Homo sapiens: one gene and its partners. The protein of the gene in region 6 purifies or fractionates together with the protein of the main gene of each other region. This does not show direct contact. Each region holds a gene or a part of one and is shown on either strand. Other genes may lie near its edges.

The links.
Region 1: the proteins of EMILIN3 (region 6) and MKLN1 purify together in Homo sapiens (co-immunoprecipitation; 2 studies listed by BioGRID and IntAct, with this or other methods). This does not show direct contact.
Region 2: the proteins of EMILIN3 (region 6) and KIAA0232 purify together in Homo sapiens (co-immunoprecipitation; one large-scale study listed by IntAct). This does not show direct contact.
Region 3: the proteins of EMILIN3 (region 6) and SSC4D purify together in Homo sapiens (co-immunoprecipitation; one large-scale study listed by IntAct). This does not show direct contact.
Region 4: the proteins of EMILIN3 (region 6) and AMER1 purify together in Homo sapiens (co-immunoprecipitation; one large-scale study listed by IntAct). This does not show direct contact.
Region 5: the proteins of EMILIN3 (region 6) and RMND5B purify together in Homo sapiens (affinity purification with mass spectrometry; one large-scale study listed by BioGRID and IntAct). This does not show direct contact.

Annotation. Positions count from the first base shown.
Region 1 is NC_000007.14:131,393,876-131,397,375, forward strand, and holds part of MKLN1 (muskelin), read left to right. Parts: intron 1-3,391; coding exon 3,392-3,500. UniProt on the Homo sapiens protein: Component of the CTLH E3 ubiquitin-protein ligase complex that selectively accepts ubiquitin from UBE2H and mediates ubiquitination and subsequent proteasomal degradation of the transcription factor HBP1.
Region 2 is NC_000004.12:6,855,727-6,859,226, reverse strand, and holds part of KIAA0232 (uncharacterized protein KIAA0232), read right to left. Parts: intron 3,427-3,500; exon of another isoform or gene 3,371-3,426; coding exon of another isoform or gene 3,329-3,370; intron 2,064-3,328; coding exon 1,997-2,063; intron 803-1,996; coding exon 721-802; intron 1-720.
Region 3 is NC_000007.14:76,396,198-76,399,697, forward strand, and holds part of SSC4D (scavenger receptor cysteine-rich domain-containing group B protein precursor), read right to left. Parts: intron 2,601-3,500; coding exon 2,523-2,600; intron 1,636-2,522; coding exon 1,321-1,635; intron 1-1,320.
Region 4 is NC_000023.11:64,184,617-64,188,708, reverse strand, and holds the end of AMER1 (APC membrane recruitment protein 1), read left to right. Parts: 3' UTR 1-3,592; downstream 3,593-4,092. UniProt on the Homo sapiens protein: Regulator of the canonical Wnt signaling pathway.
Region 5 is NC_000005.10:178,134,014-178,137,513, forward strand, and holds part of RMND5B (E3 ubiquitin-protein transferase RMND5B), read left to right. Parts: intron 1-1,156; exon of another isoform or gene 1,157-1,199; coding exon of another isoform or gene 1,200-1,299; intron 1,300-3,500. UniProt on the Homo sapiens protein: Core component of the CTLH E3 ubiquitin-protein ligase complex that selectively accepts ubiquitin from UBE2H and mediates ubiquitination and subsequent proteasomal degradation of the transcription factor HBP1.
Region 6 is NC_000020.11:41,359,462-41,361,640, reverse strand, and holds the end of EMILIN3 (EMILIN-3 precursor), read left to right. Parts: coding exon 1-373; 3' UTR 374-1,679; downstream 1,680-2,179.

The DNA of each region.
Region 1 (3,500 bases), on a different chromosome or scaffold from region 6:
TCTGCCTCCCAAAGTGTTGGGATTACAGACATGAGCCACTGCACCAGGACCAATAAATGAATTCTTAATGAGACTTGGACCTGGAAATCTCTAATATTTTATGTCTGGTGACATATATAGACTATATTCTTGGTGCTTTTAGTTTAGAATCATTATTTTATTCTGACTCTTATACTACTAGATGGTTATTGCTATGTGATTTAGTAGATAAACTTTTAAATGACACTGCTACATAAAGAAACACTAAAACAATAAAGATAATTTAATATTTGTTGTTAAAAAAAAACTTTTTGAAATGTGTGTTGTTTACATACATAAACAGAAAGGCATATTAAATATCCCAGCATTCCTTCATACATCCTTATGGCTGGTTGCTACTGCCTGTGTTTTTATTCACACAGCTTCCTTTATATCAGTGGTCCCCAACCTTTTTGACACCAGCGACCAGTTTTGTGGAAGACAGTTTTTCTGTGGACCCAGAAGTTGGGGCAGGGTATGGTGGAGAGATGGTTTTGGGATGAAACTTTTCCATCTCAGATCATCAAGCATTAGATTCTCATAAGGAGTGCACAACTTAGATCCCTTGTATTTGCAGTTCATGATAGAGTTTGCAGTCCTTTGAGAATCTAATGCCAACGCTGATCTGACAGGAGGCAGAGCCCAGGCAGTAATGCTCCCTTAACACACTGCGCACCTCCTGCCATGCGTCTGGGTTCCTAACAGGCCAGGGACCTGTACAGGTTTGGGCCTGGGGGTTTGGGACCCCTGTTTTAGATGACAAAAATATATAAAAGTATCATACCCCATACATTTTCCTTATTCAGTCGGATATTGGAAATCATTACGCCTGGTATCAGCTATTCTGGATATTCTATTTTGATGCTTCATCAAAACTCTACAAATGTTAGTTTCTTAAAGATAGTTGCATTATTGATTCTGAAACTGCATCAGTGAATCTGTTGTTACATTAAAATTCACTGGTCTATCTTGGACTTTTTACCCAGTGGTCTGTCTTGGACTTTTTACCCAGGTGTGATTTTGTAACATTCATTGGTTATTTAGAAAATATGGTTCACTGAATTACACAGATCTCCCAAATGTTGAAACACTTCATTATGTAATATTTTAAAAATCACATTTATTAATATCACATCTAATCTCATTTAAAAAAATCTAAGTGTTGGGAATCAGTTAAGCTCACAGTGGTGGGTACTTATCTTCCAAAATTCTAATTTTTCTCTTGAAAGCTTGGTTTTTATCCTTGACAGCAAATATCGTTAAGTATTTTCCTTGAAATAACATGTAAATGTTTGGCAAATACCCAAATCTGAATAATCATAGGTTGTCTGTTTTTCTTTCAAGAATAAAATGGCATTCCATGAAAAATAAATTGATTTTTAAACTCACAACTTAAATAATTGTACAGGTCCTTTCCTTGAGATAACCATTGTGGTTTGGTACACAACAAAAATGCTTTATATGCAAATCTCATTTTGTCACACAGGATACTAGACAGATGTGTACTTGATGGGAATTTAATAAAATTAATTTTTCTGTGCCATTGGTAAAAATTATTTTTATTTTATTTTATTTTATTTTATTTTATTTTATTTTATTTTATTTTACTGCCAGTGTATGGTGGTGAGGCATACAGTGCACCTTGTACTTACTGAGCACTAATAGTACTTTTTGGTGCCATTAGTTTGGTACCAAGGTGCTAGCAGTTTTACACACCATTGCTTTTGTACCATTAGTGCAATGTTGCTATTATTAAAAGGCTAGAAAAGTGTTTATTATGTTATTTTGAAAAATAGTTGTTTTGAAAAATAACTAGTGTTGTTATTAAAAAAAAAAGTAGTTTTGACTACGTGGGACCTCTGGAAAGACCATTGGGATTTTGATTGACATGATGTTAAATTTATAATTAATTGGAGAGAGCTACACATTTACAATATTGAGTTTTCCTATATAGGAACATAGTATGTTCTTTCATTTATTCAATTATTCACTAAAATTTTATATTTTCTTATAAATATTGCGTATTTTAAGTTTATTCTGAAGTATTTTCAGCTTTTTGCCATTATAAATAGGACTTTTTTGAGGTATATTTTCTAATTGGTTATTGTAGGTATAGGAAAAGTTGATTTTTGTGTGTTTACCTTGTTTACAAATAAAAAGTTTTTCAATTGAATATATATATATATTTTTTTCCACTGAGACACAGTCTTATTCTGTCGCCCAGGCTGGAGTACAGTGGTGTCATGGCAGCTCACTGCAACCTCCACCTCCTGGGTTCAAGTGATTCTCTTGCCACAGCCTCCCAAGTAGCTGGGATTATAGGCGCACGCCACCATGACTGGCTATTTTTTCTATTTTTAGTGGAGACAGAGTTTCACTGTGTTTGCCAGGCTGGTTTTGAATTCCTGGCCTCAAGTGATCCTCTTGCCACGGCCTCCCAAAGTGCTGGGATTACAGGCTTGAGCTACTGCTCCTGGCTCTCTTGAATTTTTTTAGGTAGACAGGTCATCTTTAAATTACAATTCGTTTTTCTTAATTTGTTTGTTTGTTTCCTTATTGCACTGGTTGAGACCTCTAATTAGTGACAAATAGTAGAGATATTGGACATCTTTGTCTTGTTCTGACTTGAGTGGGAATATTTAGTATTTTCCCAGTAGGTTTAATTTTTAAGGTTTTTGATGCTTTTTAAAAAAATCTAAGGAAATTTTTTATTGCCTTATATTGCTTATATATTGAGGGTTTAAAAATAATAATGTATTTAAGTCATCAAATGTGTTTTTTCTTTTATTTTGTTAACGTGGTAGATTATATTAATATAGCTCCTATTATTTATTGAACCATCATCTTTCCATTCCTGGAATGAGATCTGTTTGGTTACAATGAAAATCTGATAGAATTTTTTGCAACTTTTCTCCTTTTAATTTGTATTTAAATATGTATTCATAGCTGTGATTGGCCTTAAGTCTTTTTTCTTCTGATTTGGATTTCAGGGTTGTGCCACTGATAAATAATTTCAGTCTCTTTCAGTGTTCTGATGTAGACTAAATTCTAAAGTAATTTTTTGCTGCTTGTACATTTGATAAAATTTACCTGTTAAATCATCTAATTCTGGTGGCATTTATTTGGGGGTAGACATGTGCACATTTTTAATTTATCTTACAGTGTTTTTATTAACTAAGGAAATCTTATGGTGGCATGGGTCATCTGTTTCGTTTTACTGTTGTAGCCTTAGCACCATGCTAGTCATATAAAAGATGCCCAGAAAATTCGTTGAATGAATCCTTATAAGGTTGAATAGTGCTTTTACTTTGCTAAAGTTTTATTTGAACTGTGTTAATATTTTTCTTCTTCTTTTTGTTTTTTCTCCTTAAAGTTCCACTCTTGTCCTGGGGACCCAGCTTTAACTTTAGCATCTGGTATGTTGAACTTAGTGGCATTGATGATCCTGATATAGTACAACCTTGTCTCAACTGGTATAGCAA
Region 2 (3,500 bases), on a different chromosome or scaffold from region 6:
CAGGTTTGGCAGGTCAAGGATTGCCTATGTTCCCTCTGCAGTAAACAGTGGGAACTCAGTGTTCTTGCTTGTGAACATGGATAATCATTTCTTTTCTTTCTTGTTTTTTTTTTTTTTTTTTTTTTTAATAAGACAGAGTCTCGCTCTGTCGTCCAGGCTGGAGTGCAATGGCACAGTCTCAGCTCACTGCAACCTCTGCCTCCCGGGTTCCAGAAATTCTCCTGCCTCGGTCTCCTGAGTAGCTGGGATTACAGGCATGTACCACCATGCTCAACTAATATTTGAGACTGGGTTTCACCATGTTGACCAGGCTGGTCTCAAACTCCTGACCTCAGGTGATCCACCTGCCTTGGCTTCCCAAAGTGCTGGGATTACTGACATGAGCCACTGTGCCCGGCTGATAATCCTAATTTCTCACAGCTGTCTCAAAGGGCTGTTGTGAATATTAAAGGTAATAGTACATACATAGACTTAGCAAATAATAACCTTCTATGTTTCACTCATTTGTTCCACAAATATTGAATATGAACACCAAGGACAGAACCATCTTGTTTCACCTTTGAATTCTCAGTGTCAAGCATATAAGCGCTCGATAAATGTTTCTTACATTATATATAATGAAACTAAACAAGATGACAAACAGAAAACGGAAACCATGTAGCAGTTATTCATCTGATTTTAACAAATGCACACTTTATTACCGAATACAATCTTACATACATTTCCACTTGATCCTTTGCTGGAGGGGATAATTCTGCCTCTGGAGAGGGAGACCCCTCTAACTTTTTGTGAATCTTCTCTTCTGTTATGAAACAAAAATTAAGAAAGATTTGTCTTATATCTAGTTAATAAATGCTAATGTATTTCAAAGTTTCTCAACTAATTTTAACAAGAAATAGAGACTTTGGTGCTTAAAAGGCAAACTCAATACCGATCTTTTTAATAAAAATCTATTTTTTCAGTGTGCCAGAGGGAATTCTCCGATTAAACCACATTAGCATTAGGCCAAGAGGTGAGAGTTGTTCATCTCGTCACTGATACAGTGCTCTAGAGGCACTTAATTAAGAGACTGAAGTCCCCTGTGTACTTATTAATTAGACCAGAAGGACAGAACATCTGTTTAGATTCCAAAACTATTTTCTCACAAAATTCTACACTCATAGACTTTACATTGACTCATCTTGACCAAAACTAATCTGTAAAGAATATTCTTTATTACAATTTGCTCTATTACTTAACATGTAGGTGAGCAAGGGCTATTTCAACTGAAACAGGAAAAAGGGCTATCCCTTAGTTTAGCCTAGGATACTGCCTTAGGTTACAAATCAACTGTGCCCTTAAGAGGCAGGCTCAAGGCTTGGTGGGCAGCAAAATGACCATAAAGAGGGCAAGGAAACAAGGATCCTCACCCTTAATATGAAGGTCTCGTTCTTAGGGATTGCAAACAAGTTAGAAAAAGTATGAGGAGGATTCATATATCGAAATAACTAAATAAGCTTGCCAAGTCTGTGTTTTCAAAAAAGCTGAGTCAAAACAGAAGTCCCTTCCAAACCTGAAGTAATTCATGTCTTAACATCTTAATTTAATGTCGTAATTTAGCAGTCTTAACATCAACAGGCAGATATTAACAGAGGGGCAAGGATGGGGAAAGGAAAGAGACAATATTGTTCCTGATCTCTGAGCTTCAACTTGAAGCCAACAACAATTAAAAAAACCCAAAAAACAGAAAACCATGAAGTGTTTCCTATCTCTGAGGGCACCTGTGGACTAAGTCCCTCCCTTGGTTGCAGGAATCTCTATGAGTGACTGCTGGGTCTGACACAGAAGCCACTAACAGAGCTGCAGATGGAGCATGAGGCTGGCCTAGTGACACACACTGGACACAAAGACTTTGTTCTGGTTGTTTTCTTTTCTGATCAATTCTAAGATTTTCCCCAATCCAGATTCCTCAGGGATGTAATCCTGGCATGTGTGCGCACAGTGCTTTTGACCTCACCTTGCTTACTCTGAAGGTCTTTCAGTCTGGAGCAGAGCTCCTCCACTAAAGTCTCGATACCAGAGCTCTGCATGACAACAAAAAGACACATTAGGTTACAGCCAGGTATGTACAAATCAGGTATTTGTATACTTTTGTTTTAATACACAGGTTTTACAAATCATCCACATTCCAAAATAAATATCTTACCAATATTTACGTGAATACTACAGTTTAAAAATTATAGGTTTGTAGATACAAATTGGTATACATGCTTATTACTAATAAGGCATATTAAATGAAACTTAGTGATAAAATGTGAACATATTCATGTACCTCCCAGAATAGCTTCTGTTTTTCCAAAGGTGTGTCATCTTGCTCATGGGGCAGATTTAAGGGCCTAAATGTCCATCATACGACCAAAAGTCAGTCACCATCAAAAAGAGTATTAAATATTTATGTGAGCGAGATCTTATACCAGACTTAAAACAAAGGAAAATCACAAAACCTCATCTTAGTTCTCTAGGAGCTCACACCCTGAAGAAAACAAGGTGATTTTTTTTTTTTCTGTTTTAAAGAAACATGAACACTCATGATTAAAACAACAGAAGTCCAGAAAATGAAGCCAATATTGCAAATGTGAAAGCTTTGTCTTCTTTTCAGCATCTGGACCAGATTATCGACTTCTATACAAAGCTTGGGAGTTTAAAATTTAAGGAGAGTACATAGAAGAGTCTGGATTTGGGAGGGTAAAAATAAGAGTCAACCTTTAAAGAAAAATGAATGTAGAAAACAGGCACAAGCAAATAATCTTTCATTAGTAGACTTTAACTTTTAAGAGTCTCAATTTCTCACAGGAAGAAAAAAAAATTTTTTTACAGTGGACAAAAAAAGTCAATGTATTTCTCAGAAACTTTAGATTTATTCAGTGACCAAAGTCCTATTTAAACTGGAATCAAGTCCTTATTGGTGGGCATAACCCAAACAGATGCGCGTGATGGAGAGTTCTGCTAAGCCAGTGCCCTCACTAGGCCTTGACGGGCTAAAAATAGAACTTTACCCCATTCACTTAACTCAAAATGACTCAGCACAAATATTATAGATATCCTACATAAGAAATCCCACGGTTACACAGTTTGAGTAGCAAGAAACAGATTACAATGAAAACAGTTAATTGTAAACATCTAGAGTTACATTCTGTCCACGTCATACCACAGGTTTTAATAGGAAGATAGAAAAATAGGCCAGACAAGAGTTGCCCTTTCCTTTAAAAACACTCTTAAAAACGATGGCAGATATTAGTCATAAACACTGTTCAACCACAAACAGTTGCACCAGAAAGCACCTGCTTACCATAATGCTCAAGGTGTGACAAGGACGGCAATTATATTCCATTTCCTTCGGATCGTGAAACCAACACCAGTGTCAGCTGACACACTGCATACTGTTCTGTACAGCAAGCCTATGTCACTAGGTTTCTAAACCTAGGGCTAGTCTCGCAATGCAGAACACTGAACCTCTAGGG
Region 3 (3,500 bases), on a different chromosome or scaffold from region 6:
GGAGCTCAGATACCGGGCCAAATTGAGGACTAGCTAAAACAGGGATGGGGTGGGAGTGCCTCTCCATGAGATACGCCCACTCGTATGCCATGTCAGTTTACCATTGCCGTGGCAACACCTGGAGTTACCTTTCCATGGCAACGCAGACAACCCAAAAATTACTATTCTAGTTCTTAAAATATCTGCATAATCCACCCCCTAATTTGCATATACTTGAAAGTAAATAGAATTACGACTGCAGACCTGCCTCTCAGCTGCTACTCTGGGCACACTGCCTATGGGGTAGCCCTGCTCAGCAAGGAGCAGGACCTCTGCTGCTGCTGTGCATTGCCGCGTCAATGAAAGCTGCTAACACCAGCTGGCCCTTAAATTCTTTGCTGAGGGAAGCCAAAAACCCTCCTGGACTAAGCCTCGATTTGGGGGCTTGCCTGCCTTGCATTAACTGTGTGACCATGGGCAAGGCTCTGACTCTCTGGGCCTCAGCTTTCCCACCTATACACTGGGAATGATAGCCCTTAGTTTGCTATGAGTTATGAGTTGTGGGCAACCACTTTATCTCTTACAGAGCAGAGTCCATCTGTGAAATAGCATTATTGGCCCTATTATTCCTCTTTGCTGAGAAACCCTCCCAAATTGGAGAGGGCCTAGGTGGGGAGAAAATACTATTATTAGAGCATCAGGATGACAGAGGGGTGTGCTAGGTAATGCTGTGAGCATCAGAGAATGCTGGAATATCTCTGGGGCAATTCTAGAGTGTTACTCCGAGTGTTATCCTAGAGTGTTACTCTAAAGTGGTCCAGGAACAGTACTTGCTGGAACATTCTGGAGGCATTCTTGGGATATTGCTATAGAATTCTCGAGTATTGGTGAAGCAATAGTACAGTTTTTTTGTTTGTTTGTTTTGAGATGGAGTCTGTCTCTGTCACCCTGGCTGGAGTGCAGTGGCGTCAGCTCGGCTCACTGCAACCTCCACCTCCTGGGTTCAAGCGATTCTCCTGCCTCAGCCTCCCGAGTCTCTGGGATTACAAGCATGCACCACCACGCCCGGCTAATTTTTGCCATGTTGGCCAGACTGGATTAGTGCAATATTGTTTCATAGCCATGGAGTGTACCACAAGGAGTTCTGGGATATTCGGAGGCACTTCTAGAACAGGACTGAGATAGAAGTAATTTTGGATGCTGCCTGGAGAGCTCTGGGGAGCATCAAGACAGCCAAAACACCCTCCCCATCCACCTCCCCACCGAAGCCTCCTCCTCCAGCATTGCCACAGGGCCCCGCCCACCTGCCCCGGCCCCGCCCATCGCCCCTAGAGCCCGCACCTGCGCAGAGCGCGCCCGCGTCCTCGTGGTGGCCGCAGTTGTGCACACCCCAGCCCAGGCTCTGGCAGGCTGCCAGGCGGGGCTCGCCGCCTTCGCAGTGCACGTTGTCCAGCAGGATGTGTCCGGTGCCATAGCCGAAGAAGGCGTTGGTGGTGGCGGCCATGGCCGCCCCGCAGCCCAGCTGACGACAGACCACAGCGGCATCCGGCAGCCCCCAGTCGTCGTCACACACGGTGCCCCACAGGCCACTGTGCAGGATCTCCACTCGGCCCTGACACAGGTTCGCGCCCCCTACCAGGCGTACGCTGCCCTCACCTGGGGATGGGGGCGGGGGTCAGGGCGCATCTCCCACTGGCCTCTGCCCCCGTCCGCACCGCAAGGGCAGCCCGGTGTCCCAGGATCTACAACCCTTGGGCATCTGCTCACCCCGCTGCCCAGGGTACCGCCTCCTTGGTCCAGACTGGGGGTAGCTTGTGGGATCATAGTATCATTTCTGCCTAAAACCAACCCCCCTACCCTGCTCCCTGTCTCCTGGCAGCCTGGGACGTGCTGCCTTCTCATCTACTGCAAATGACATCCTCAAGATACAGCCCCACACCTCTTCCTCCAGGAAGCCTTCCCTGATCTCCTGAGGAACGGGACCCTCTTCCACCTCTGGACTTCTTTGCCTCTTTCACTGTCCCTCTTTTAGAGCACTTTTCATTTTCTTCTTCTAGTCATGATCATCATTCTTGGGCTCATCTGACCTTCCTGTGAGATTAAGCTCCAGTCTCACCGCCCATTCATTTTCTATTTTTTTTTTTTTTTTTTGAGACAGGGTCTCACTGTGTCCCCCAGGCTAGAGTACAGTGGCATGATCTTACTGCAACCTCTGCCTCCCGGGTTCAAGTGATCCCCCTGCCTCAGCCTCCCAAGTAGCTGGGACTACAGGAATATGCCACCACGCCTGGCTAATTTTTGTATTTTTTGTAGAGACAGGGTTTCACCATGTTGGCCAGTCTGGTCTGGAGCTCCCAACCTCAAGTGATCCGCTGGCCTCGGCCTCCCAAAGTGCTGGGATTACAGGTGTGAGCCACCATGCCCAGCCATTTTCTCTAACTTTACATCTTCAATTTGTAATCCCTGTCTTCCCACTGCCTAGGGTAGGGTGTGAGAGACTCCTCTCCCAAAACCCAGGTGGTGCCCACATTATGCTTACGTACTTTTTCCATTCGGCAGTGTCGTAGGAGGTGCTCTACTGGTTAACATCTTCCTTGTTGGGGGCTGCGTTGGCAAGAATTCTGGAAAGGAAGTGAAGTGGATACAGGGGTCTTTCTGTTCTCCATCCTCACACCACGGGGTGTTTAAGGGGCAGGAGGATGGACCCATAAGGTGCTTGCCGCCAGAGCCTCTGGCCACACAAAGAGTCACAGCCAGGAACACTGGGGTATGAGAGGAGAGGGTCCACACCAGAGTCCTGGACTCCTCTAAAGCACGGTTTTTGTTGTTGTTTTTTATTTTATTTTATTTTTTGAGATGGAGTCTTGCTCTGTCGCTCAGGCTGGAGTGCAATGGTGCAATCTCAGCTTGCTGCAACCTCCGCCTCCCTGGTTAAAGCAATTTGCCTGCCTCAGCCTCCTGAGTAGCTGGGATTACAGGTGCCTGCCACCATGCCCAGCTAATTTTTTGTATTTTTAGTAGAGATGGGGTTTCACCATGTTGGTCAGGCTGGTCTTGAACTCCTGACCTCAGGTGATACACCTGCCTCGGCTTCCCAAAGTGCTGGAATTACAGGCATGAGCCACCGTGCCCAGCCTGAAGCACAGTTCTTAAAGCAGTTCACCTCCCTTGGGAACTGTTAGCGATGCAGATTCTCAGGCCCCATCCAGACCTGCAGAATCAGAAACTCTGGGATTGGGCCTCAATCTGTGTTTTCATGAGACCCCCTGATTTTCTTGAAAACTAGAAGCACTGCTCTCAGTTTCCGCTGCAGCTCTATGCCACGTGGAGCGCATGGCCAGTGTGACCCCAATAGTCGTTTTTTTCTTTGTTTTTCGAGACAGGATCTTGCTCTGTCACCCAGGCTGGAGTGCAGTGTCACAATCACGGCTCACTGCAGCCTTGACCCCCCCAGACTCCAGCGATCCTCCCTCCTCTGCCTCCCAAGTAGCTGGGACCGCCCCCAACACCTTGCTAATTTT
Region 4 (4,092 bases), on a different chromosome or scaffold from region 6:
TTTCTTAAAAGGGAAAACTCCCTTCTCAAGCCTCCCAACACAAAATGTTCCTTAAGCCTTGCCCATCCCATCATTTGGACTCTGTAATAAGGCCCCAGGTTTGCACTCCCAAGACAGGATACCAAAGGCATCTCAGCTGCTGTTCTGGGCCCTTTAAAGAGCTTTTATCTTCCAATTAGCCGAGTCCTTAGCATCATCAAATGACAGGGCTTCTTGGCAGTTGCAGCCCTTTATGGAATGAATGGCACCCTCCCTTCTCCTGCATCCATGCAGTTTTCATGTTAAACTAGGTTGGAAATACTGGTGGGGAAGAGCTTGCTGTCAGGAAGACATTGGAACAGGCTAATCTTGCCAAGCTCAACCTCTCATTAATCACCTGTAGGAGAGGGTTCCTTTTACATGTCTTTATTGGAAATGGCATATGGAACATTTTTTGCTTGGCTGTGTTCACTCAAATTATGATTATTGCACCCTCGCCCTCACATCCCACCATCTCCATGCCTGTTGAGAGAAGAAGTCAACAGGGTTCTTGCCATTCCTGAGATATGGCAATTTAGCTTGGGAACAGATGCTGTTTGCCCCCTAAGTCAAGGTGACTTTGTGGGCAAACTGTTTCTTGGCCAGGGGATGTGTCCATGCTGGTCTTTGTCACCATTTCTCAGATTGGGGTTGGCCCAGTGCCCTTACTCACAAATAGCAGACCTGGCTGGTAGAAGCTGCACCCCTGGAAGCACCACATGAATTTGCATGGCACTAACACCACCACTCAAGGGACCCAGACCAGCTCTTCAGGCTGACTTTGGCTACAGATACATTGTGAAGAAATGTATCTGTTGTGGAGCTGGAGAATGAAAGAGGGTGAGGAAGGCCCTCCTTACCCCAAGCACAGCATTCCAAGAGAGAAGTGCCCAAATTCCAACTTTCTGGCCTCTTACCAAAGCTGCTCTGGGATGGTGGGGCTGAAATTGGCCTGGCTATTTGGCAGGAAGTAAACACTCACCAAATGCCTTTACAACAGGGAAGAACCCACCTCTTGCCTCTTCTTTCAGGGCAGCTTGAGCTCCTGTCTACATGTGGACTGTGCCAGCCACAGCAGGCGGTAGAGCCATCACCAGCCTCCAGACCCTGCTGGAGAAGGGCCACCAGCCTATCTGGGAAGAGAAAAAGGAGGTGGCCAACCTTTGGCTAAGGGCTGAGAGCTGCCCTCAGGATCAGGAAGGCAGCATGAGGCATTGTCTCTGAGGGGCACTGGCATAGCCCTGACACACTTTGTTGGGCTTTGGAAGGTCACACACCACAGAGTAGGGCCTGGGGCTGAGTGAGAGTTCATGGTTTGGACAGCCTTGCTGCCTGCAAGTCCCTTCACTGCCCTAGCCAGCCCAGGAATAGGATCCTTACCACCTGAAGTGGGGCAGCCAGGATATGTGGCTGCAGAAGCAGGTTCCTTTGAATTTCTAGAGCTAAGCAGTTTGTGGCTGAAACCCAATGGCAGCCTAGGGGAGGAAGGAAGACCTGTCTGGGGACCCATGGTGTTGACAGCACAGGGTGACATTGGGAGAGCCAGCCAAGCTTCAGGCCTGTTTCCAAACACAGACTAGTGCTGGCTTGGGTGGCAGCAAATACACCCCAGACCACTAAAACTGTTGATATCATGTCCACACCTCCAAGAGTACTACTAGATGAACAACATGTCTCCATTGCAAGGTCCTGGAATAATGCTTTTGGATGTGATTTTAAGGGAAAATGGGACTTAGTGGAAGTAGCTGCCTTCATCTTATTACCCAATAGGCCTAGTGCCAGACAGCTGTGATCCTGAGAATTCCCAGATGAGACTGGTCCTTGGAGGACCAGTGAATGTGGATAGAGAAGGCCACCTAGTAGGCCTCTCCCAGGGCCAGGATGCCAGTTTCTTGGTGCTTTAGAGTCTCCAAGGAAGCACTGCCTTGGGGCCCAGTTCAAGCCAGCCCTACCTATCTGGCCTCAGCTTGGGTACCAGGCCACAAGACTGCCCGGATAATGGGTTCAGTAAACACCAGTCTCTCTCCCTCCTTAGTCCTATGCCAAGAAGGGAAGTAGCTTCACACACTCAGGAGGCTGGGTGTGTACCCTTCATCCTGCTGCCAGCAGCTTTCCTTACCTGTGCCAGTGCCACCACCCCACCTGCCCTCAGCCCCCAGGCCCAGTTGCTAGAGGGAGGCATGGGGTTTAGCAGGGAGACTTCAAGTTTACCCATGTGTATGTTGCATTCAAGTTGTTTTTAATATATATATATATATATATCAAAAGTCAATTATCTATTTTTATATTGTTTGCATTTTATATTCATGGAAAACAATGTTTATCAATTGTTCTTTTCTGATTTATTTTTAAGCGGTGCTGTTTACAGTTTTAAACAAAACAAAGATGACACAAAAATTGCTGCTGCTTGTGCAGAGGGCTGGCATCTCAACTGCCTAGGGCCCTCCCTCTTTCCCCTCTCCCTACCTTAGCTGTACCACACTGTCCGTTCCCTCCCCCCATGATAGGGACAGCAGAAGATGCCCAGGTACTGAAGACAAACGCCAAGTGACTCAGGCGTGTGGGACCTGGTAGACAGCTTGTCATTTTCTGGCTTTATTTTATGTTTTTCTTTCTTTTGAACCCTTCTTCCCCATGTCTAGACCCTCTGAGAGTACTCATGTGTCTTATTTTTTTTCCTCGTTATGTTTTGTGCTTTAGTTTTGAAATCAGAGTGCCCATGTTGTGCTATTTGTCTTGTTGAGTTTCTCCAAAGGAGCATTTTGGGAACATTCTCCACCCAATGGGGAAGGAAGGGGGTTTCAACCATGTCCCCTTTCCCCAAGAAGCTGTGGGAGACAGATGACAATGATGCTTGCACTATCAGGAATTTACCATCTCGTTGAGGAAACCCTTGCATAGGACTTCCTAGGAGCTCAGTTGATTGTGACATTTTCCCAGAAGAGAGGCTTTGGGGAACTCCTTCACCCCTCTTGCTGCTTTGGGGGAATCTCCTCCCCTACCACCATTCCCCCTCCCCTGCCCTGCTCCAGCTCACACGTGGATGGTACTTTGGGGAACAGTGACTTTCAGGGTGATGGCTTGCTGGCCTGATCCCTGACTTTCCAATCCTATAGTCACTCCAAAGAAGAAAATCCACATGGTATGTATATGTGTGAGGGTTGGGTCTATTGAGAGGTGGGACTTTAATTATTGTTATTATTATTGGTGCTTATTTTTCCTGCTGTATATGGGGGTGGGGGTGGGGGGGAATAAAACAGGAATGTATATTTAGGTCATGTTAAATAAAATGGCTGGAGGAAGGAGGGAAGAAATTAGGAACTGCAGTACATCATCACCCCAGGTGTAAGAGTTATTTCTCTCCCAGTGCAGAAAGGGGAGTGTGGCCCCTGGCTGTACCTGAGCTTCCTCTTCTCCATCCCTGAGACATCACAGAATCACCCGGGTTCTGACCTCTCCACTTCTAGCTCTCACTGACATCTGGATATCTTGATGCACTGCCTGTTTGTAACAACATATACTTCTTTGCTGAATGCTAATAAACTTCTGGGTTCAAGAGGGAACCCCTCAGTCACTAATGTGCATTCTTGTGGTTTGTTCCACAGTAGTGTGCCTGTAACCCATGGTTGTTGGGATTGCCCTTGGAGAGAAATTGAGAAACCAAGGAGGTGGTGGGTGGAGGTGGAGTAGGGAGAACCAGCAGGGGAAACAGAAGCCAGGGCTGAAATTGAAAGTAGAGGAAATTGCAGTTTTTCATCCAAGCCATGCCTTATATCCCAGTCAGATGCCATATTGGCAAACTCTCTATCACACCTTCTATGCCTTAAGACCTGCCCCTTAAGTCCCTGTGCACTGCCAGGGGCTGGCTAGCACTTCTAAAATTAGCCTCAATTTCTGCAAGTATGTGGCCTCCCTACCAGCCAGGAGACAAATGTGTGTACCTCCTGCTGATGGCTCAATCAAAAGGTTATATCTAATGGTGGGACCGGCAGGCCAAGCTGCAGGAATGGCATCTTTTATCCGGGACTATGGGCAGAGATGCTGGCCAGATAGCTGCCTGCCCCACCTATTCAG
Region 5 (3,500 bases), on a different chromosome or scaffold from region 6:
CAATCAACAAATGTTTACTGAGCATCTACCATGGACCAGGCCCTAGTCTGGGCACTGAGGGGGAGAAAGGACAAGACTACATTCCAGCCATCGAGCAGCTCACAGACCAATGGAGGAGGCTGACGTGGACAGGCTGTTACTGTGCTGCAGTAGCTGAGGACTCGATGGGTGTGGTGTGGCCACTCTTGCCAGGTTATGAAGCAGAAAAGGAGGCAGGGAGATTTCACTGAGGGCTCAAGGGGAGGTGATAATTTAACTACAGCTTACGTACTCTATACAAAGAAGTGCAGAGGGCACTCTAAAAATGGGAACAACTTGTGCAAAGGAAGCAAATACATTATTGCAAAGGGTTTATATGTCAACCATGGTAGTGTTGGGCAAAAGGTAACAGGATCTGCTATGTGTTTCGGAGGGTCATCCTGGTGGATAATTTCTGTATATGTGAGACCTTGGGGAGGAAGGCTTAGGACCAGTGGACATGAAATTTCAATCTATTAATCATGAAGTTTGTCAAAGACAAACACAATTCCTTGCGCCTGGTGAAGATGACTGACTGATTCAGGCAGAGTGGCTTGCTCTAGACAGACTGAATTAACCTCCTGCATTTTTTGGATAGAATACCCACGAACAGTTCTGTTTTCTCAGTTCATTTATTTTACTTTTAAAAATTTGGCCAGGTGATTTGGCTCACACCTGTAATCCCAGTGCTTTGGGAGGCCAAGGCAGGTGGATCACTTGAGGCTAGGAGTTCGAGACCAGCCTGGCCAAAATGGCGAAACCCCGTCTTTACTAAAAATACAAAAATGAAAAAAAAAAAAAGCCAGGTGTGGTGGTGCACCTGTAATCCCAGCTACTTGGGAGACCAAGGCATAAGAATTGCTTGGACCCGGGAGGTGGAGGTTGCCAGTGAGCCAAGATAGCACCACTGTATTCCAGCCTGGGCAACAGAGCGAGACCGTCTACAAAAAAAAAAAAAAAATTACTGAGTTAATCACACTCCTCAGTTCATGATACATTTAACTGGTCCATGCAGGGCCTTTTTCTCCTTTGTATTTATATTCCCTTTTGTCCCTATTCTTCCCCTCTCTTCTCACCACAGGAAACCATTCTGATGTGTTTGGTGTATATCTTCTTTTTGTTTTTTGTTTTTTTGAGACAGGGTCTCACTCTTGCTCAGGCTGGAATGCAGTGGCATAATCATGGCTGACTGCAGCCTTGACCTCCCGGGCTCAAGCAGTCCTCCGTCCCACCTCAGCCTTCTGAGGAGCTGGGACCACAGGCGTGTGCCACCATGCCCAGGTAAATTTGCCGTGTTGCCCAAGCTAGTCTCAAACTCCTGAGCTCAGCAGTCTGCCTGCCTTGACCTCCCAAAATGCTGAGATTACAGGTGTGAGCCACTGCTCCCAGCCTATATGCATATACTTTTAATTTACATAAATGGATTCTGCCTAGACCTCATTTTTTTCCACCTCAGTGCCATGTGTGGAGCTTGTCGATGTTGCTCTGGGTATATTTGGGATGCAGTTTCTAAATGCTCCACAGGTTTCCATAGATGCATCCCCCACATTTTACTTACTTGATTCCTCTAGTGATGAGGTCCCTAGATTGTTTCCCACTCCTTGCTACAATGCAATCCCGTACCCATCTCCTTCCTCAGCTTTGTAAATAGAATTTTATCGCTTCTCAGCCTTTTCGCTGAGATCAAGTGTAGTAAATACAATTTCAAGATGCTGATTTGAGCTTGGCTTTGATAAGCCTGGTAGCTCTTGGTGTCTGACAGGGCCGGATTGTTTGACCTTCGTGAGGTCCTGGCTTTTTTGAGCCATGTTTATTTTTGATAAATTGTGATTCTAGTTCCCAGACACTCTTGGCCAACATTCTAGTGTCCTGCCATCTTCCCCAGTTGATCATTCTCACGAGCTCTGTGGTTAATTTTCTGTTTCTCATCATCATTAATGGTTGCTGTACACTCATTCCAACACAGATATTTGCTCTTTCCTTTCCTGGTGAAACAGTGGCCTGTGAAGCTGGTCCTGGGAGTACCTGTGATGTGAAGTACGTAGAGAAGGACTCTGAGGCCAGAGCCAGACTGTCTGGCTTCAGTTCAGTTCCCAGCTCCTCCACTTCCCAGACGCCTGACCTTGGGCAACTGATTTAATCTTTGTGTCTCATTTTCTCATCTGCAAAGTGGGTCTAATCATTGTACCTACCTCATAGTGTTTTCGTGAGCATTAGGTAAATGAATTAATGTATGCAAAGTCATTAGAACGGTGCCTGGCACATAACAGGCTCCTATTTGGAATGTCAGCTGTTAATAATAGCAATAATAATAATTACGTCATTTCAGATAGGAGACCCTGTTATATTTTGCCATAATGGGTCACATTCAGTTGCAGGGTGTTTGTTCAGAGGGGATGGTGGGGGGTGGGTGGCATAGCTTCTGGACTCTCTGACTATAGATTCCAGCGTAATAGCATTAGCTGTAAGGAAAAAGGGAAGAAACACAGCCCCCAAGGCCCTGGGTGCCTTTTCACTGTCACTTGTTGCCTGTCAGGTTGGGAGACAGTGGCTACAGATGGGTCAAGGTGCTGAGGCCGGGACTCATGCTGGTGGGAATGAGGGAATGAGTGAAGAGAGCCTGTGAAACTGGGAGGATCTTGGTGGTCACCTTGGACATAGGATTCTCTTTCTCTTTGATGTTCCTCTGTACCCTTCTTGAGAATGGGCATTGGGCTAGATCAGCTCTGTCACTGACATTCTGAGGTTTGCCCACGTGTTCAGTGTCAAAGGCTGCTCTGAAATGGAAAGGAGCAGTGGCCCAGGGTAGAAAGGACACAGAAGGAAGCCCCAGTGGTAGGGAGAGGAGATAGGACAAGAAAAGTCAACTTTCTTTCAATGGTATAATGAGGAGGGAAGGTTGTGTTGCAGCAAGAGAGGTTCTGGTCTGGTGGGGGAGGCAGGCCCAGTGACCAAAACTGAAATAGAAGGGTGCAAAGTGAGAGTAGAGGGAGCTAGGTGGGCACAGGCTAGAGACAGCTGCTGAAGACGCTGACGTCTGAGCTAACTCAGAAGTGATGGGCCAGCCTCTCAAGTAGTCGAGGAGGTAAGGGTGATGGAGAGCAGGCCAGGTGAGGAAGCAGCATGTACCAGGGCACGCAGCTATGAGACAGCAAGGGTTCTGTGCCTGTCCTCGGGTGTGCGGCGGGTGAGGGTGAGGCAGGAGTGCTGGGCAAGTCCGTCAGGCCAGCATGGTTGGCAGTTATTCCCCAAGCTGTGTTTCCAAATATCAGCCACTCAAGGACGGCCTTTATGGTTTATGTTACTATAGTACGTAGAAAAGCAGTTCCTCTAACTGTAAGAATGTGGCCATAATAACTCTATGAAAATACACGGGCCGGGCATGGTGGCTTATGCCTATAATCCCAGCACTTTGAGAGGCCAAGGTGGAAAGATCGTTTGAGCCCAGGAGTTTGAGACCAGCCAGGGCAACACAGAGAGAC
Region 6 (2,179 bases):
GCTTCAGGCTGGCCACAGGCAGGTCCTGAACCTGCGTGGGGAGCTGGAGCAACTCAAGGCTGGTGTGGCCAAGGTGGCCAGTGGGCTGAGCCGCTGCCAGGACACAGCCCAGAAACTTCAGCACACAGTGGGACACTTTGACCAGCGGGTGGCACAAGTGGAGGGTGCGTGCAGGAGGCTGGGCCTGCTGGCCGCGGGCCTGGACAGCTTGCCCACTGAGCCACTGAGGCCCAGAGAGGGCCTGTGGAGCCATGTGGACCAGCTGAATCGTACGCTGGCCCAGCACACGCAGGACATTGCCCGCCTCCGGGATGACCTACTGGACTGCCAGGCCCAGCTGGCTGAGCAGGTGCGGCCAGGGCAAGCCAACTAGACAGGCTGGCCAGGACCCAACCCCTAGATCCCACCAACTCGGGGAACATCACCCCAGAGCCCAGCCTTATCCAGCAGCGCCTTCCAGCCTTCCCTGGCTAGCCCAAATGGCACTAAGGAGGCCACTGAGGGAATCCTCCACGTGGCTGTCCCAGCCACCAAAACCCATGCACAGTGCTGCAGAAACTGGACAGTTCCGGACAGCGGTCAAGGCAAGGATGTCATGCTTGAAGGCCAGGGTAGACTTGAGAGAGTTCACATTCCACTGTCAGCAAATCAGTGTCTGGACAGCCAGCTGCAGGGCCTGAGCATGGCTGGCAGGGGCAGCTGCTGTGGCAAACTGGCCTTGATCAGTGTCCGTATGTAAGGCCTTGAGAGGACCCTGCAGGCAGTCAGCACCAGCCTCAGCAACTGTGCAGAGACCTACAGGCCCACAGCCAGTGGCCTGTCCGCATTGCCCTGTGCCCACAAGCAACAGTCCACAGCCCTTGGTGGCTTCTGTTCCTTGTCCCCTCGGCTTCTCTTCGCAGCCATCAGGACTAGGTTTGTGCAGGAAGGTGATGCCCACTGGAACTCTCCTCACACCTGGCAGCTTCATGGATGTTGTATCTGAACTAAGGACCAGAGGCTGCCAGATGTTTCTGGCTCCTCACGTGTCCTTCAGGACAGAACAGAAGCACAAAGACTCAGCCAAGAGTTCTCTTTATTCCCTTTGATCCTCCCCCAAGGTGAGGGCTTAGGCAGCTGTAGAACCCCAGGAAAGAACGGAATCCAGGCAATCTGTTTAGAGACCCCCCACTCCAAATTTATCCTTTTCCTTTCCTTCCCCTAAGATGTTTCCAGGGCCCTCTGGTGCCCACACTGTCCTCTTCCTTCCACTTGGGGGTGGGGAAATCCTTCCTGCGAGGTCAGGGCATTTCTCTACAAAGTGGCCTGAATGAGGCCAGGCCCTGAGAAGGAGCCACCAGCTGGAGGAAAGGGGCTCCAAGCCTTGCTTTTAACACCCCTGCAAAACCCCCACCCTCCCAAGATGTTCACAAAAGGTGAGAAATTCAGGTACGAAACCATCAATGGACAACTTGAAAATGCATGTTCCTCAGGCCTATGCAGTTCCCAGAGACTCTTGACACCGGTCTCTGCTGAGGCTCCCAGCCTCAGTTTCCCCCACAGCAGCACGGGCCCCACTGTGCTGCTCTTCAGGTCCCCACAGCCCTGCCTTTGGTTCCTGGACATTTGGTATTCTGCCCTCCACTCTGGTACTATCAGAGTAGGGCAGGCTCTGGATTAAAGCTTTTAGCCGGTCTAAAGCTACTTTCTTCAAAGACAGTGGGAGGAGAGGTTGCTGGGGCATCAGCCCTGCTTCCCACAGCTCCTTAGGCAAGAGCTTACCCAGCAGCTGTGAGCACCAAGCTGGCCAGCAGAGGCTGGGGGAGGACTTTCAGGCCAACACCTGCCCCAGCTGAGTTTGGGACTGTCCTTAAGCGAGGTCTGGAGAGAGGCAGCGGCAGCAGCCGGACGGGGAGCAGGCCAAGCCGGAACCACAGCCTGCAGGTGTGGGTGTGTGTCATGTGCTGAGATGCCAGGGCACCAGCAAGGGGGATATGTTGGCAGTGATGTCTGGCTTCGGAGGGTACAGTCCTGGCTCCCAGACAAGGGGCGGGGAGAACACTGTGTCCTTCCAGAGGCTGTACCACACTCCCACTGCTGTCACCCTTCACTGAAGCCTCGAGCCTCGGTAGGGCCTCCCTCTTCTCCCTGTCCTATCAAGACTTACAGCAAGGTCCCAGGTTGACAGGGAGACAGATAT